Linked DNA regions of Homo sapiens. The protein of the gene in region 1 purifies or fractionates together with the protein of each later gene. This does not show direct contact. Each region holds a gene or a part of one and is shown in the gene's direction. Other genes may lie near its edges.

Evidence for each region. The genes of interacting proteins can lie anywhere in the genome.
Region 2: the proteins of ZNF492 (region 1) and PPM1H purify together in Homo sapiens (affinity purification with mass spectrometry; one large-scale study listed by BioGRID and IntAct). This does not show direct contact.

What each region holds. Positions count from the first base shown.
Region 1 is NC_000019.10:22,650,197-22,655,591, forward strand, and holds part of ZNF492 (zinc finger protein 492), read left to right. Parts: intron 1-3,110; 5' UTR 3,111-3,203; coding exon 3,204-3,237; intron 3,238-3,723; coding exon 3,724-3,819; intron 3,820-5,395. UniProt on the Homo sapiens protein: May be involved in transcriptional regulation.
Region 2 is NC_000012.12:62,928,145-62,933,485, reverse strand, and holds part of PPM1H (protein phosphatase 1H), read left to right. Parts: intron 1-5,341. UniProt on the Homo sapiens protein: Dephosphorylates CDKN1B at 'Thr-187', thus removing a signal for proteasomal degradation.

The sequences.
Region 1 (5,395 bases):
CTGGGGGTTCACTTCAGGCCCTATTTATCTGGTTCACTTCTGAACCTGGAGATATTAAGGAGATTGGAGAACAGCAAAGATGGGTGCCTGCTCCTTCCTCTGGGATCTCTGACCTTAAGGAACACCAATCTGATGCCAGTAGGAACACAGCTGTATAGGGTGTCTGACAACCCCAGTTGGAGTATCTCACCCAGTTGGGTGGCATGAGGAACAGAACCCATTTAATGAAGCACTTTTATTGTCCCTTGGTGGAGGGGGTATGCTTCACTGGGGTTAAACTCACTCCTCTGGGCTGCTTGGATTCCTCAGAACTGGCGGGGGGAAAAGCTAAGTCCACTGGTCCACAGAAACTGCAGTCACCTCTCCCCCTAGGGACTCAGGCCCAGGGAGATCAGAGTTCTGTCCCTGAGCCCCTGGCTGGAGTTGTTGGAGTTCCTGCAGAGTGGCCCCACACAGTGAGGAGGGATGTGTCAGGGTCAGGCCTGAAGAGGAGCTGTAGCTGCAGTCTGGCACAGCCAGTGTGTTAGGCTGTGGGGGACACCTCTTGGGACCAAGCCGTCCAGCATCCCTGGCTCCAGCAGGGGAAAAGCATGGCCAGGAGCTATAGAGATGACTGCCGCCCTTCCCCTGCCCAGGGAGCCTAGTGTGTTAGGCAGCTGTCAGTCCCAGTGCTGGTTGCTGCCCCTCCCCCAGGGAGCTCAAATGGCTTAAACAGCAGGCAGCCATAGCTGTAGTGCTGGTCACCCCTCCCCTGGGAACTCAGCAGGCTTAAGCAGATTTTAGCTGAGAGGCTGTTGAGAATCTGCACAGCTCTGGGGTTGGGATCCTAGGCCCCAGTGGCATGGGTTCACGAGTGAAATCTTTCAGTCTATGGGTTGCACAATTCCATGGAAAAGGCATGGTTTTGTCGGCTAAGTAGCACATTCATTCACCGCCTCCCTTGGCTGGGGGGTGGGGGCTCCCCTGCCCCGTGTGGCTCTCAGGTGGGTTGCTGCACCACACTGCTCTTTCTTCCTCTCTGTGGGTCATGCCAGCTGCCTAGTCAGTTCTGATGAGAGAACCTGGATACCTCAGGTGCCAGTGCAGGATTCACAGGCCATTATGGTTCTTTTCGGTGGGAGTCTCTGATCACCGCTGCTTCTAGTTGGCCATCTTTGCCCTGCCCCTAAAAAATGGCTTTTTTTTCTTTTTAAGCTAAACATGTCTCAGATGAAGAACTGTGTCCACTCTGCCTCCTGGAATGCCATGTGTTCAGTACTTGCAAAGCTTTACTTTTCTACTTGTGCTTTTTCTTCCTAATGAGTTTAACTACTTTTTAGTTCTTATAATAGTCAAAGGTCTCTGAAAAATATTTCTTTCCTACATACCAGAGTCTTCTCTACATTCTCAACATCATGGCTTCTTACATGTCATCAAGAATTCTCACCATGAATTTATGAACTGCAATATTAAGAATGTTTCCTTCGTGGCTATGGAACATGGGAAGGTGTAGATACTCAAGATTCCTATTGGGGAAAAGCTGGGGTCCTTAATAAAGATGGAGAGCATGTAATTTTGAGGTTCCATCTCTGTTCTCCATTAGCTGTAAACAAATAAGATTAAGAAAATGCTTATTTAAATGGGATGGCATTTATTACGCAGAAAGTTTAAAAATAATAATAATTAGGAGATACTTGCTCTTTAGGGTGTGAAAGAAAGACTACTTAAAATCACTATTAAAATTTACAGAACATGGCAGATATTGGTATCTGGAACTTTACATAAAACCAGTGTTTCTTTATGATTAAATTCAGACTATAATTTACTTTTGGCTGGGCAATATCATAGCAGTGATGCCGTGTCCTTCTGTGTGCATCAGCACATTTGTCTTCATGCACTTGATGTTAATAACTCACTTGATTAATGAACTCTGTGACAGATTTTTTTCTATAGAGTTAATTATTTTTCTCTTCATTACTGAGTATCTTTATTCAGCAGATGTGCATAAACAATCACATTTAATCTGGCAGCTGACCTTTCTTAGGCTTTTTTTTTTTTTTTTTGAGACGGAGTCTCGCTCTGTCGCCCAGGCCGGACTGCGGACTGCAGTGGCGCAATCTCGGCTCACTGCAAGCTCCGCTTCCCGGGTTCACGCCATTCTCCTGCCTCAGACTCCCGAGTAGCTGGGACTACAGGCGCCCGCCACCTTAGGTTTTCTTTGCATTTATCTGTCTTTGGAAAATGAAAGCTCTCATCTTTGTTTACAGGCCAGAAAAACTGAAAAACACACAGGCTTTTCCACTTACTGGATGTTTGACAAAATAGTTTTCTTGGACCAAAAACATGGGCATTACTGGTGAGCTTGTTAGAGATTCAGAAACTCAGATTTTATTCCAAATTTTCTTTTCTTTTTTTTTTTTTTGAGACGGAGTCTCGCTCTGTCACCCAGGCTGGAGTGCAGTGGCGCGATTTCAGCTCACTGCAAGCTCCGCCTCTGGGGTTCATGCCATTCTCCTGCCTCAGCCTCCCGAGTAGCTGGGACTACGGGCTCTCGCCTCCACGCCCGGCTAATTTTTTGTATTTTTAGTAGAGACAGGGTTTCACCGTGTTAGCCAGGATAGTCTCGGTCTCCTGACCTCGTGATCCACCCGCCTTAGCCTCCCAAAGTGCTGGGATTACAGGCGTGAGCCATCGCTCCCAGCCCAGATTTTCTGAAAAAATAATCTGCATTAACAAGATCTCCAGTTTATTGTACACATTAACATGTGAGCAGTATTTTCTAACTGAATATGTCTTTTCCATCTGAAAAATTTACACAACTTATTCTGTATGATGTAAATGTAGCACTCAAAAATGTACATGTTAGTGTTAATGCCCTCAATTTTATACTTCATCATCCGAAGAAGTATCATACTTACCTCGATGTTGTGGATCTTATGCCACTCTCTTTTCTCAGAGTTAGAGAATGCATTAGAGAATATACTTCTGTGCTGAAAGTTATTTATTAAATATATCAGTCACTCCTATAAGTAAGAACCAGTTCTCTTTACTCTTGTTTTACCTTGAGTCAAATTAAAAATTCTGTTCATGGCCACTTGGTAAATATGTATGTGTGTTTGTATGTTTTTCAGGGAGTGTTGACATTTAGGGATGTGGCCATAGAATTCTCTCTGGAGGAGTGGCAATGCCTGGACACCGCACAGCAGAATTTATATAGGAATGTGATGTTAGAGAACTACAGAAACCTGGTCTTCGTGGGTGAGGATAACTTCAATATACAATTCCCTAATATACCCTATAAATTTTATTTCTCTTTTTTGTAGAATGGTTTTTGGTAATTTATGCTTTCAGATCTCTGTTTTTTGTTTTTAACTTCAAGATTTGTCTATGTAGAAAAGAATTTCAAGATGTTTCATTTTGACCTGAACTTTCCACACTCCTGAGCTGATCTGTGTTCTTCACTCTAGATTAGTGTTAATTTTAGAAATTTAGTGGCATAACGTACTGTTGCCCACATCTTAAAATCTAATTGCCACTACCAGTTTTTGATTTAGTAGTATCAGGTAGTGAAATTAAGAACTTACAAAATTAAAATATTTCCTAAATATTTAAAATTTTTTGTTGTGTATTAGTATTTTGGAATCAATTTACTAGAATATTCTATTACATCCTTTTTTCTGAACACACTACTAAATTGGTAATTGGAGAATATGAGCAAGATTCATGTTATTTGTAATAAAACAGGTATTGCTGCCTCTAAGCCAGACCTGATCACCTGTCTGGAGCAAGGAAAAGAACCTTGGAATGTGAAGAGACATGAGATGGTAGCTGAACCCCCAGGTAGGTGAGAGTGAAAGTGAATACAACAGATGACACAGATGAGAGCTCCAAAGTAGAAAAAAAAAAAAGCCAGTCCTTAAAATGATTTGAAATCTGTGTTCCAAAGGAAATAGTTTCTGGGAAGCCTGAATTTTTTAAATTTTGCTTTCACATAGAAGCATCTTCTGTCTTATATTTTTAAAATCTCTGAAGATTTTACTTTCCCTTTGGTGATCTTCTTCAAGTTTACAGTGACAGCCAAGACAGCCCTCTTCATGGCACATAAGAGACTGTGAAATCTGACTTTTTCACTGTTTTTGAAAACACGTAGATAATCTGCATAATTTTGAGAAACTCTATGTTAAACTGTTTTTCAAGTTCTGTTTTTACATTATGTCCTAAATGTGTGAGAGCAGTGGTTTCTGTTCCATTGGTTTCTTTATTGCTAATTTTTCTGCACATTGCATTCTGTCTTATTATAGTCTTGAAGTATAGTTTGAAATTATAAAGTATGATGTTCTTCTGCTTTGTCCTTTTTTTTTCAAGATTGCTTTGGCTATTCAAAGTTTATTGTAAGTCTATGTGAGAATTGTATTTTCTTTTTCTCTTTCTTTTTTTTTTTTTTGAGATAGAGTCTCGCTCTGTCACCCAGGCTGGAGTGCAGTGTCATCATCTCGGCTAACTGCAACCTCTGCCTCCTGGGTTCAAGCGATTCTTCTGCCTCAGCCTCCTGAGTAGCTGGGAATACAGGCGCGAGCCACCATGCCTGACTAATTTTTGTATTTTTAGTAGAGATGGGGTGTCACCATATTGGCCAGGCTGGTCTCGAACTCCTAGACCTCGTGATCCGCCCACCTCGGCCTCCCAGAGTGCTAGAATTACAGGCGTGACCCACCGTGCCTGACTGAGAATTGTATTTTCTATTGCTGTAAAAAAAAAATACTGGAATTTTGATAGAGAATTTATTGAATCTAGAGAGCACTGTAGATAACACGGCACTTTAATAATATTCTTTCAGCCGGGCATGGTGGCTCACGCCTGTAATCCCTGCACTTTGGGAGGCCGAGGCAGGCGGATCACCTGAGGTCAGGAGTTTGAGACCAGCCTGGCCAACATGATGAAACCCTGTCTCTACTAAAAATACAAAAAATTAGTCAGGCGTGGTGACAGGCGCCTGTAATTCCAGCTACTTGGGAGGCTGAGGCGGAAGAATCGCTTGAACCTGGTAGGCAGAGGTTGCAGTGAGCTGAGATTGCACCACTACACTCCAATGTGGGCAACAAGAGTGAAACTCCATCTCAAAAAAAAAAAAATTCTTTCAATCAATAGACATGAAATGTTTTTAAATTTATTTTTGTCTTCTCCAATTTTTTTTTATTGATGTATCTTTTATTTGAAAGATATTTAAGCTCCTTGGTTAAATTTGTTCTCAGAAATTTATTATTTTAGTGCTATTGTAAATAAGATTGCTTTCTGTCTCTTTTTTGTCAGATAGTTTGTTTAAAGTGTATGGAACCATAACTTACACTTGTATGTTAATTTTCTATTTTGCTAAATTATTGAGTGTAATTATTACTTTAATTAGGTTTTAAATGTA
Region 2 (5,341 bases), on another chromosome or scaffold:
CCCCTCGGTAGTTTTGGCCCTCCCCTATCCGTGCACGGCCTCGCTGGTTGATTGGTTCGTCCGGGAACCAATCAGCTCTTCCAATGCCTGGGCGCCTTGATGCTGACCCTGTTCTGGTGGCCCGGATACCCCGGGGCAGGCTTGGTTCCCGACCCTAAGGGTTCCGGTGGGAGAGACTGCTTGGAATCTGCTCTGCTTATTATCTCTAATTCTCCTTTCCTTCTCCCATCATCCTATAAAGCGTTTCTCCATGGGCTGAAATGGAAAACGTGTATAAATGGGGCTAGACGATTGGAGTGTGAAAGTGAGGAGGCAGAAATGCGCTTTGATGGGAGCTCAGACAGTAAAAATTAACACATCATAAAAGATGAGCACGGAAGAGAACGTTGTGGGTGGCGAAGGTACAAAATAGCATTGTAACTTCCAAGAGAAAGCCAAAGCAAAAATAAACACCTGTGTAAGGAAAGACCTAAAGGAGAAAAAAGAGCCTGCCAAACATACCAAACACTATTTCTTGACTGAAATAAAAACGTTATTTAAAAGCCCATTTAGGCCGGGCGCGGTGGTTCACGCCTGTAATCGCAGCACTTTGGGAGGCCGAGGCGGGCGGATCACGTGAGGTCAGGAGTTCGAGACCAGCCTGAATAACATGGAGAAACCCTGTCTCTACTAAAAATACAAAAATTAGCCGGGCGTGGTGGCGCATGCCTGTAATCCCAGCTACTCGGGAGGCTGAGGCGGGAGAATCGCTTGAACCCGGGAGGCAGAGATGGCAGTGAGCCAAGATCGCGCCATTGCACTCCAGCCTGGGCAACAAGAGCGAAACTCCTTCTCAAAAAAAAAAAAAAAAAAAAAAAGCCCATTTGGACCCTTTACGAGACAGCAACTTGGAGGCATACCCTGTGGTATAATTGTGTAGATGGGGGTCCTTGTGACTGCCAAACGCCTGAGATCTGTCCCCACTCCAGTGAGTTTCCCAGGGCGAGGGCGCCTGTCAAGGCGAGAAGGAAAAGCAGGCAATGGTGAGAAAGTTATGAGAGGTAGGAAAGAAGATACTGAAACACTGAAGGTGGAAGCCGTTTGGACACAGTAAAAGGAAAGCCTCAGATAAGCATGAGGGAAAGGAAAGAACGAATTTCAGAGTGTTTGCATGCCTATGGTAGGCACAGGATGCAATGAGACACGCATGAGAGAGTGCTTAGAGGGCTCCCCCCATCCTCTCTGGGCCTCCATTTCCGCATCCCTAAAAAGTTAATTTTTTTTTCCTAGAATAAAACATGAGAGATATTCAACTTGAAGCCTAGGAAGGCCACTGTAAAATGTTACAAATTTTAAAGTTAGTGGCAAAAATAATACATGTGTGATAATTCAAGCAAAGACCTATTTAAAAAAAAAAAAAAAAAGTCAGCCCCTCTTCCCCAGCCCTCACCTACTCCCTAGGAGTAATGAGGGTTCAATGTTTGGGTGATATTTGGCTTTCAGACTTCTTTGGATGCCCTCATAAATACATATCATGCGTTTCTTTTTTCTTCTCAAAATAGACTCATACTAAGCATATTATTCTGTAGCATTTTCACAAAACACTATGTCATTAACAGTATTCATAAGTAAACACAGAATTACCTCATTCTTCTTAAATATATACTATTGGTAATGGCTAACATAGTTAATGCTTACTCTTTAGTGCTTATACTGTTTTATATCATCTGATTTTCATAAAAGCCTAATGAGGTAGGCACTATCATTTCCATATTATAGTTGAGAATACAGAAGCACTGAGTGATTAAGCAACTTGCCCAGGGTCAAGCCTGTGTGTGAACCCAGGCAGTCTGACTCCAGAGCTCGCAACACCAAACTCGTTCTCTACAGTAGATTAAATTATGATGTATTCATCTGTACCCAGGAATAGCCACTAAAGTCTTGGCCATCTCTCTCTTCTCACCTTTAACCCTGTCAGATAATATACTGTACCGCTTCCTTATATCTTGAACTGTTAGTTTATCTTCCTGCAAAAATGCATCCTGAATGATCAAAATGGCTGAAATAGGGAAGGAAAGAGAAAGACAAGTAGGGACTGTGGCTGTGATCAGAAGCTGCCACCAGTAATGCTGCCCTTTCCTACAGGATTTACTGGGAGAAGAAATTCTGTTCTCTTTGTACTAGAAGGTACCTGAGAGGGGTTGAATAGGTAGGAAGATTGCTCAAATTGTGGTGATAAGAACTGTACTAAGGAGCTAATGCCTGAATCAGAAGTGATCTGTTTACCTCTCTAGAAAGTGAGTCACGTTCCAAGCCTTCCTTGGGAGGAAAAATTGACATCTTTTGGTCAATGAGTTAATGTTGATGACTGACCCTTTGAGATGGTAGAAAAATTAAGGAGAAATGGTCTAATCTTTTGCCACTTACTGTTAATCCCTTTCAAGAAGAGAGACTCTATAGGCTATAGAACTAGAGAATTAGCCGTAAGCAATCCCTGCTAGACTTGAGGTTGCAGAAACTGAAGATTTTCGTTCATTTCAGTATTCATTGGCATTGTCCTAGATGGAATTTCCCAGCTCTTGAAAAGCTTCCTATTACAGCTGAAAAGTTTAGCCACTTGGCTAAGGGGTATTTGCAAGGTTGTAAAGCTCTGTAAAGCATTGTAGTTATAGATAACATCTACTAAGCTAAAATCTTTCTAAAAACATGCATTAGCAAGTTTTAAGTTTGGCTTTGAAATCAGTGGCTGAGCCTGTTTGGTTTGCTCATTTGATAAAGCCCTTGGGGAGCAACAGTCTGACCCAGAGACCAGGCGGCAGCTACTTCCTTTCTCTCAAATACCACCCAAGTGGAGGTTGGTTCATTTTTATAATGGGTTGGGAACCCATTTTGGCTTTTTTTCTTTTTTTACCTGTTTGCCCGATTTTTATCCTGTTGATGAAACAGTTGGTCTTAGAGATGCCAGCAGGCATGGAATTTGTGCCTGAAACTACAGACGTAGGGAATGCCAAAGAATGTGTTGTGGTTTTGAGCAACAATATTGTGTATGTTAATGCATCATATTCAGGTTTTTATCAGTGATACATTTGTTTACTTGTACAGAAAGAATACATTAAGTATAGCTAATTTTACTTCGGTTATAGCTATAACTATAAATTTTTTTTCCTATTTCTTATAAAAGTACCCCTGGACATAAGTAGAAACAAAAGCTACTTTGAGAGTGTCTGTTAAATGTATATCATATAAGTGTATGTCTCACAGAGTTGAAAATTATGAAATTTTTGATGGAATAACCTTATTTAAATCCAGCCAGCTGCCTACAGGTATTTGGATTTGTTTTGGACTCTGCAGGCTGTCTGTCTCCTTGGTCATTGGCACTAATTGCTTATTACCAATAAATGGCATTAGTTGGCTGGGTGGTGGTGAAGACACAAAAACCGCTATTTCTTTCTTGCCCCAAAGCTCGGAAATCCCCTGGCCTTTCTTTTTCCCTTCTAACTTTTCCTGGCATACCTGCCCCTCTTACTGACTGATACCTCTTTGCAGAACTCCTGCTTGGAAACTTCCTGTTTGACTTTTGCAACTGAAGAAACTTGAGGTTCTCTACTCTTATGTAAGGATAAAAAGGAGTGGGTGAGGGTATCTGCAGATGAGTTACAAGTCCAGAGTAGCCTGAGCTATTTCAGCTACCTTTCTGGTGACTTGCAAAAGGTATTAATTTCCTATTTTAAAGCAGACAGCTAAGCGTTCCTTCATATTTCAGATATAGCATTATAAAGAAATCATCCCCCTTAGGTGGAGCTCCTGGGGATGTCTCTTTTCTTAGGAAAATGCATCAGCTTCTTTCAAGGACTGGTGATGCTTCAGGCAAAGGGTTTAACCATGCAGGGGGGTGTTTACTATATGTTTCAGTCCCAGTTTAGGTAGACATCCGCATCTCTGCTATGACCCCACTATACAGTGCTTTCAATTAAGGTTACAGCAGTACTAGTTGAAAATGTAAAACTGCATACTGGAATTGTTGTCTAAAAATACATTAATGTTCAAGAGTTATTTTTAATTCTCAATGTTTGGTAGAAATAAACTCTGGTGCCTTTATAGTTCTGTGATTTGCCTAATTTAAAGGGAGGATTAGTTAGCTTGTCCCCTTGAATTTTTGCTATCATTTTTCAGGAAATAATCATTCATCTGCTTCCATTATTTCTCTCAATTGATGAAATCATTGCACTCCTACTATGTGTCCAGCATTGGTCCCATGCTGGATTCATAATATAATAAGACATAGTCATTATCCTCAAGAAAATTTTATAGCATAATCTTTCCCCTTTTGTACTTTCTTTGAAATTAAATTAAAATGAAATAGACTATTAAGGTTCAAAGGGACCAGCACCAGGAGTTTTGTTTTGATTTTAATGTCTTAATGCTTCTGGGTAATTTTAAATCTCAGTATTTGGAGCCTTTAAGTCACATTAGGGAAGCAAACTTGTTTTTTCCAACCAGCTTATGATTAGCTTTGTACCTGAAGGCCCAAGACCTTCCCTGCTGTTAGAGAAAAAAAATTATTCTGACACTTGTTACAATGCTGGGGAAGACTTTACTCAAGTCTGTTGCAATATAGGAAAACAACCCAGCTCAATACCACGTTGACAGCTGGTACTTGTAGGCAAAGAGTAGAGTGTGAGGGGTCAGTGGAATGGAAAGTTACTCAGCGGGGACATTAAACCAAACTCAACTGACCTAGCAGGATTCTTGCTGAAAGCAGACCAAAGACTTGTAACATCAAAGGTGGGGAATGAGGAACTTGAGCAGGTATCAAGTTTGGGGGATTCTTGCTAACCTGACTTAACAGGATTCTTGCTTAAGGAACAGGATTGGCGCCAACGTTGTGACTTAGTAGAGAAGAGAGGCCTGACTCAAGTTTGGTGGAGGAGAGAATCTTTGTCATCCTTGCAGATGGGGGAGAAGGGGGAGAGAGTAGGTGGGACTGCAGTTATTTAACTGTGATTTTCATTCTGACTTATCTGCATTACTTCTGTGACCCTCCATAATTGACTGTGTTTCCTACTGACCATGTAAGGAGAGCAGATGCCCTTAATTATGGTGCAAAAGATGCAGGATTGAACCTAATTATACAACATAATGTTATGGCAAAGAGTTGAGGAGCCTTTCCCAAGTTGTTTTTTTAGATAAGTGGTTTTCACTAGCTTTCCAGTTTGGTACTACAGTAGATACTTTGCAAATTATTAGCTTAAGAACGGTATAGCATTTGATTTGTTTGGCCCATCTCCCATATACCATATAGTGATAGGATTATCCCTATTTATACTTTATTAGAGGCATTAAAAATTGCTAAATGCAATAG